2 linked regions of the Homo sapiens genome follow. The protein of the gene in region 1 purifies or fractionates together with the protein of each later gene. This does not show direct contact. Each region holds a gene or a part of one and is shown in the gene's direction. Other genes may lie near its edges.

Region 1 (3,500 bases):
TATGCCCACACTTCTGCCCCTGTCAGTCCTACCACCACCCCCAGCCTCGTTCCAACAAGCCCAGGCCATGTTCACACGCCACCCAATAGCTCACTCCCCACCCAATCGATCAGGTCCCCATCCCGACCCCTCCCCTATCAGTCCTGCCGCCCCCCACGCCCCCGGCCCGCCCCAATAAGCCCAGGCCACGCCCACCCCACCAGCTCTGGCCACGCTCCCAACTTGGCCCCAATCAGCTATAACCGTGCCCACCACGCCCCAGTTAGTTCTGGTCACGACCATGCCCCACCCCAATCGGCCGTGACCACACCCAGGGCGGATCCTTCTCCTCCATCCCAGGTTAGGACTCTGCTATTGCCATGGTTATGCCCACAGTCTGACAATGCCCACCATCCTGGCCTTGCCTGCGTTGCTGATACAAAGTGTTTCCCTGTCTGGGTCGCACCGTGTCCCCAGCCAGTCCTAGGTTCAGCCCCTGCCTTGGCCATGCCCACAACAGACCGGCCCTCCACCCACACAACTCAGGTTCTGGCCACGCCCATCACCATGACCACGCCCACATCGCGCTCCCCGCTTCCTCCTGTCCCCACCTCAGGGCGAGTGTCGAAACTTCGTAAAGGTGCTGCTCCTTCGGGACGAGTCCACGCTCTTTGTGTGCGGTTCCAACGCCTTCAACCCGGTGTGCGCCAACTACAGCGTGAGTCTTCAGACTCCCTGCGCCCCAGGTCCAACCTCCAGGCCTCTGCTCGCCCGACCTCCGCTGGCCATGGCTTTTCCCCAGGCCGTGTCACCTCCTCCAGGAAGCCTTCCTGGATATACTCTCCCTGCCTCCTCCCCCTGAGCTCAAGAGGAGTCAGCGCTGTCCAAACGAGGCCTGTACAGGGGGCCGGGGAAGCCGTAGCTACTTAGGTAATGAGCCAGTTACAGGTCTAACTAGGCATTGACTCTTAAACCCATTTACAGATCAGTAAACTGAGGCCCTGAGAGGTTAAGTGAGTGGCCAAGGTCACACAGTAATCCGTGGTGGATCAGGATTCCCCCTGGAGTGGGGGGCTGAGGGAGCCAGGGGCTGCTAGGTGGGGTCAGGAGATCTGTCACTCAGGCCCCATGGTCCCTGCAGATAGACACCCTGCAGCCCGTCGGAGACAACATCAGCGGTATGGCCCGCTGCCCGTACGACCCCAAGCACGCCAATGTTGCCCTCTTCTCTGGTAAGTACCCCCCCAACCTCCATCTGATCAGCCCCAGCCACAGGCAAGACCTGGCATTTTCTACTCCAGCGTCTGGGTTGTTTAGAAGGCAGCTGGACGACCACTTGTCCCAGCTGTGACATGGGCAGACTCTCAGCCCAGGTTTGGGGCTCAGCTGGGATTGAGGCTCAGCGGGATTTGGGGCTTAGCCGGGGTCAGGGGCTCAGTTAAGGTCAGGGCTTGGATGGAGGTGGGGCTTGGATGGGATCAGGGCTCAGCCTGGAGACAGGGGCTCCCCTAGGCTCAGGACTCAGTCTCAGAAAATCGAGTTTCGACCCACCCAGCCCCTGGCCTCTGCGGTCTCATCTCTTGCCTGCCTTCCCCACCCACCCCATCCAGACGGGATGCTCTTCACAGCTACTGTTACCGACTTCCTAGCCATTGATGCTGTCATCTACCGCAGCCTCGGGGACAGGCCCACCCTGCGCACCGTGAAACATGACTCCAAGTGGTTCAAAGGTGAGACCAGGAAGGGCAGTGGGCCCAGACCTGGCAGGGCCCAGAACCTGACATTCATCAAATCTCCCCACCAGAATAAGAGTCCCAGAGGAGCTTGGTGGAGAGATTTCCACCACATCTTTGGAATCTGTTGGCCTTTTTGAAGACTAGAAAGCTAGAGGAACAAGTTTAGTTGGATCTAAAGTAGAACCCGCTGGAAGTGGGTGGCTTAGAAGCCCAAAATGGAACCACAGAAAAGATATAGCAGGACTCAGCTCTTCAACACATGAGGGAGGAAGATAACAAAAAATAGTTGATGTTGCCATTTGCAGCAAGAGACACAGCGATTTTAGGCTTCTGACCTCCCTTCCCCTGCAAAATACCAAACTTTGAGTCTGTTTCATATTGTCTGGGTAACCAGCCTATGTCCCCCCTTCACCATAAAAGCCAGTGAGTTCTTAGCCCCAGAAACCCCCTTTGTCATGTCAGGGGCTGAGTTCTGACCCCTCCTGTCCTGCAGAGCCTTACTTTGTCCATGCGGTGGAGTGGGGCAGCCATGTCTACTTCTTCTTCCGGGAGATTGCGATGGAGTTTAACTACCTGGAGAAGGTGAGGCCGGTGCAGTGGGGCATGAAGTTGAGAGGCTCTGATCATGCGAAGTGAGGGGGCAGAGGTGGATCCATGAATCCCTGCATGGGGTGAGAGGGTCCTGCCCTCCATTTCTGGTCCCCAGGGCCTCCTTTCCAGCCATGATCAGGCCCTGAGGCTGAAGACATCTACGGAGCAGCCGTGGAGCACTCAGCCCTGACGAGGGACTTGAGTTGGAAGTCAGATACACCTGGTGCTGTTGCTGTTCACCTGTCCACCCACCCACCCAGCCACAATCACTTATCCATCCTTCATCCCCTGTCCATCCGTCTACCTGCTCACCCTCCCACTTACCCATCTGTCTGTTCTTCAGCCCACCCACACTTTCATGAGCCCATTAATCCATCTACTCATCTGCCCACCCACTCACTCATCCACCCACTACCATCCATCCGTGCACTCATCCATCTGTCCATGCATCCATCCACCCATCGATTCATCTAGCCACCCTTCCATCCTATCCATCTATCAGTCCATCCACCTATCCATCCATCTATCCATCATCTGTCCATCCATCTGCCAATCCATTCACCCATCCATTCATCCATCCATCCATCCCATCCACCCATCCATCCATTTATCTACCCATCCACCAACACACCCACCCACCCACCCACCCATCCATCCATCCATCCATCCACACATCCATCCATCCATCCAGCTGCCAATCCATCCACCCATCCATTCATCCATCTACCTATCCACCCACCCATCCATCCATCCTTCATCTATCCATCCATCTGCCAATCCATCCACCCTTCCATCTCATCTATCCATCCATCTCATTCACCCACTCATCATCTATGCACCCACCCATCTATCCATCCATTTATCTGCCCATCCACCCACACACCCATCCATCCATCCATCCATCCATCCATCCATCCATCCATCCATCCACTCACCCATCCAACCATCCACCCATCCAACTCACCTATCCATCCATCCATCCATCCATCCATCCATCCACTCACCCATCCAACCATCTACCCACCCAACTCACCCATCCATCCATCCATCCATCCATCCACCCACTTATCCATCCATTCATTCATCCACTTATTCACCTATCCATGCATCCATCCATCCACTCACCTAGCTTTCTCTCTATCCATCTGTTCATCCATCCACCCACACATCCATCTACTTATCTACCAATTGCTT
Region 2 (3,500 bases), on another chromosome or scaffold:
TGGGCATGAAAGGGCATGATTAGATGCCCTTGGGTGCTATTCCCATGGCAACCTGCACACATGTATCTTGTCCCACTGGCAGAATTTCATACAATTATCTGTTTACATGTGTCTTCCTTACCAATTCTTCAGCAAATTGAGGCCTGAGATCATGTCTTGTCTTATTTGTGTCTGATTCCAGGGCACAGTGCAGGGGGTCATCATGAAGGAGTCATTCATTCAGGCTACTAAACTGACCAATAGGATTGTAACATGCTTGCTTTCTTTTCACAGTCTCCAATAAGTGGTTCCATGAACGAGGACAGGAGTTCTTGAGACCTTGTGGATCAACAGAAGTTGACTGACATCCTTTTCTGTCCTTCCCCTTCCTGGTCCTTCAGCCCATGTCAACGTGACAGACACCTTTGTATGTTCCTTTGTATGTTCCTATCAGGCTGATTTTTGGAGAAATGAATGTTTGTCTGGAGCAGAGGGAGACCATACTAGGGCGACTCCTGTGTGACTGAAGTCCCAGCCCTTCCATTCAGCCTGTGCCATCCCTGGCCCCAAGGCTAGGATCAAAGTGGCTGCAGCAGAGTTAGCTGTCTAGCGCCTAGCAAGGTGCCTTTGTACCTCAGGTGTTTTAGGTGTGAGATGTTTCAGTGAACCAAAGTTCTGATACCTTGTTTACATGTTTGTTTTTATGGCATTTCTATCTATTGTGGCTTTACCAAAAAATAAAATGTCCCTACCAGAAGCCTTAAAGAGCCTTACTTGGAGTATTTTTAAGACTGGAAGCTTTTACCAGGTTCATCATTTCCTATGCATCACCTTCATGCAGGCAGAGTCTGGATAATGAATGCTTTAGCAGCAAAAAAGCATCTTGGGTCTTGGATTTCAGACCTGGTTTCAACACTTGTGTTCCCTCTAAGTGTCAGTGTCCTTTTCTGGAAAGTAGGGTAAATAGTTTCTCTTTGTCTCCCAGAGAACATAGCACATGTGTTCATGATTGTAATGCTGTTATAATGTGTACTTCATTTTTAAATTTTGAGATAAGAATTGTTCATGATACACAGATGTATACTTAAAAAAATATGAAGGTGAGCAGGAGCACCTGTGTCAACACCAAGTTAGAAAAGAGAACGTTTTCAAGTCAGTACCTCAGGAGCCCCTTGGGAACCCCTCCTAGATCACATCTCCTTCACTGCCCCCAGCACTTTGGAGATAAATCATTGTCTCATGATGTGTGGTACTCATTCCTTTGCTTGTCTTTATAGTTTTACCATCTATGATTAGATCCCTAAATAAGTAGTTATTCTGTTTTCCCTGATTTTGAACTTTTACTAATAGAATGAGAGTAAATATTTTTGGGTATGTGGCTTCTTTTGTTCAACATTGTTTTAAGATTCATCCGTGTTGCTTGTGTAGCTGTAATTTGTTTTAATCTTTATAGTACATTCAGTTTTGTTAATGCTTATTGTAGGACTGTACCATAATACAGGCAGCATGCTGCTGATAAACACTGGAATTGATTTCAGTCTTTGTATATTGTGAATAATGCTGTGATAAACATTTTTATACATGATTCCTGGTGCACATATAAACACATATTTCTGTAGGATATATATCTAGGAGTGGAAATGTGGAGTCTTAATGGTGTTCCAACTTTACTAAATAATGTATTCCAAGGTGGTTATACACATTCTCACCAGGAGTAAATGAGAGTTATTACCCCAATCTTTTCCAGTATTTAGTATTTTCATACTTTTGAATTTTAGCTAGCTTGGTACATGTTACGGACTAAATGTTTGTGTCCCCCCACCAGATTCATATGTTGAAATCTTTTTTTTTTTTTTTTTTTTTGAGACGGAGTCTCGCTCTGTCGCCCAGGCTGGAGTGCAGTGGCGGGATCTCGGCTCACTGCAAGCTCCGCCTCCCGGGTTCACGCCATTCTCCTGCCTCAGCCTCCCAAGTAGCTGGGACTACAGGCGCCCGCCACTACGCCCGGCTAATTTTTTGTATTTTTAGTAGAGACGGGGTTTCACCGTTTTAGCCGGGATGGTCTCGATCTCCTGACCTCGTGATCCGCCCGCCTCGGCCTCCCAAAGTGCTGGGATTACAGGCGTGAGCCACCGCGCCCGGCCCATATGTTGAAATCTTAACCCCCAATGTGATGATATTAGGATGCGGAGCCCTTGGGAGGTCGTAAGCATGGAGCCCACGTGAGTGGGATTAGTGCCCTTATGAAGAGATCCCAGCCCTCTTTCTGCCATGCGAACACACAGCAAGAAGATGCCTGTCTATGAACCAGGGGGCCCTTACCAGAAACAAACCTACTAGCATCTTGATCTCGGACTTTCCAGTTCCCATAACCATGAGAAATAAATGTTTTTAATTCAATGTATGGTATTTTATTATAGCAGCTCTACCTAAGACAGTACATGTATAGTGTCTATTTGAACATTACTGATAATGTTGAACAACTTTTCATGTTTATTAGTTATTAGGTTTCTTCAAGTGTTCTTATTCATACAAATTTTAAAATATGTACACAAGTTCTTTGTTATATATTTTGCAAATATCTTCTGTGGCTTGTCTTTTCACTATTTTAGTTCTGTCTTTTGATAAACAGGAGCTTTTAATTTTTATGTCAAATCTATCAAGCTTTTTCTTTTTGATTTATGTTTTTTATGTCTTATTTGAGAAATCCTTCTATACCCCAAGATCATGAGGATGTTTCCTGTGTTCTCTTCTGAAAGCTATATAGTCTTTGTCATTTAGGTTTATCTTTATACGTGGTATGAAGTGTAAAGTTCTACTTTTAATTTTTTGCATATTTTATTAGGATAGGATGGGCTTTTTCTGTAGTAATAATCCTTAAATCTCAGGGGCTTAATATATAAAATTGTCTCATGCAAAAAACCACTGGGTCTAGGGCAATTGCTATCTACTGCCGTCTAATCTCCCTCTAGTGGCTTCCATTGGTAGACCCTAACAGGAAGCCAGCTGATAAGGGAATCTGGGAAATGTAGTTTACAGAGTGGCAGCTACAGTAGAACAGTAGAGACTACAAGGATGAGCTTGCAGCTGAGAATAGAAACGTGACTGGCACACTAGGTGGTTTGTTTGTAGGTTTTTTCTTTTCCTGTTTGAGACTTTTTTGGATTCTTGAATTTGTACAATGGTATCCTTAATCAATTGTGGAAAATTAAATGATTTTTTCTTTCAGCATTGTCTGTTTCTTCTGTAACTGATTAAATGTAAGTTGGATCATATCATGATATTATCTCTTAATCTGTCTTTCATATTTTTATATATATGCTATATTTGGGGAGAACTTTATAGCTGTTTTGTACAAAGTTCACTAATTCTGTCTTCTATCAAGTGCATACAGGAGTCTGTTTAAGGACTTTAAAGATGTAATTCTTTGTTTTCTGGCTTATACCATTTCTGTTGAAAAGTCGCTATCTGGTCCTTTGTTGTTCCTTTGAAGGTGATTTTGCCTTCACCTGGCTGCTTTA

What was found. Proteins that work in one complex are often made in the same cells at the same time.
Region 2: the proteins of SEMA6B (region 1) and P4HA2 purify together in Homo sapiens (co-immunoprecipitation; one large-scale study listed by IntAct). This does not show direct contact.

What each region holds. Positions count from the first base shown.
Region 1 is NC_000019.10:4,553,185-4,556,684, reverse strand, and holds part of SEMA6B (semaphorin-6B precursor), read left to right. Parts: intron 1-595; coding exon 596-697; intron 698-1,120; coding exon 1,121-1,211; intron 1,212-1,589; coding exon 1,590-1,709; intron 1,710-2,208; coding exon 2,209-2,297; intron 2,298-3,500. UniProt on the Homo sapiens protein: Functions as a cell surface repellent for mossy fibers of developing neurons in the hippocampus where it plays a role in axon guidance.
Region 2 is NC_000005.10:132,189,854-132,193,353, reverse strand, and holds the end of P4HA2 (prolyl 4-hydroxylase subunit alpha-2 isoform 2 precursor), read left to right. Parts: intron 1-273; coding exon 274-344; 3' UTR 345-3,207; downstream 3,208-3,500. UniProt on the Homo sapiens protein: Catalyzes the post-translational formation of 4-hydroxyproline in -Xaa-Pro-Gly- sequences in collagens and other proteins.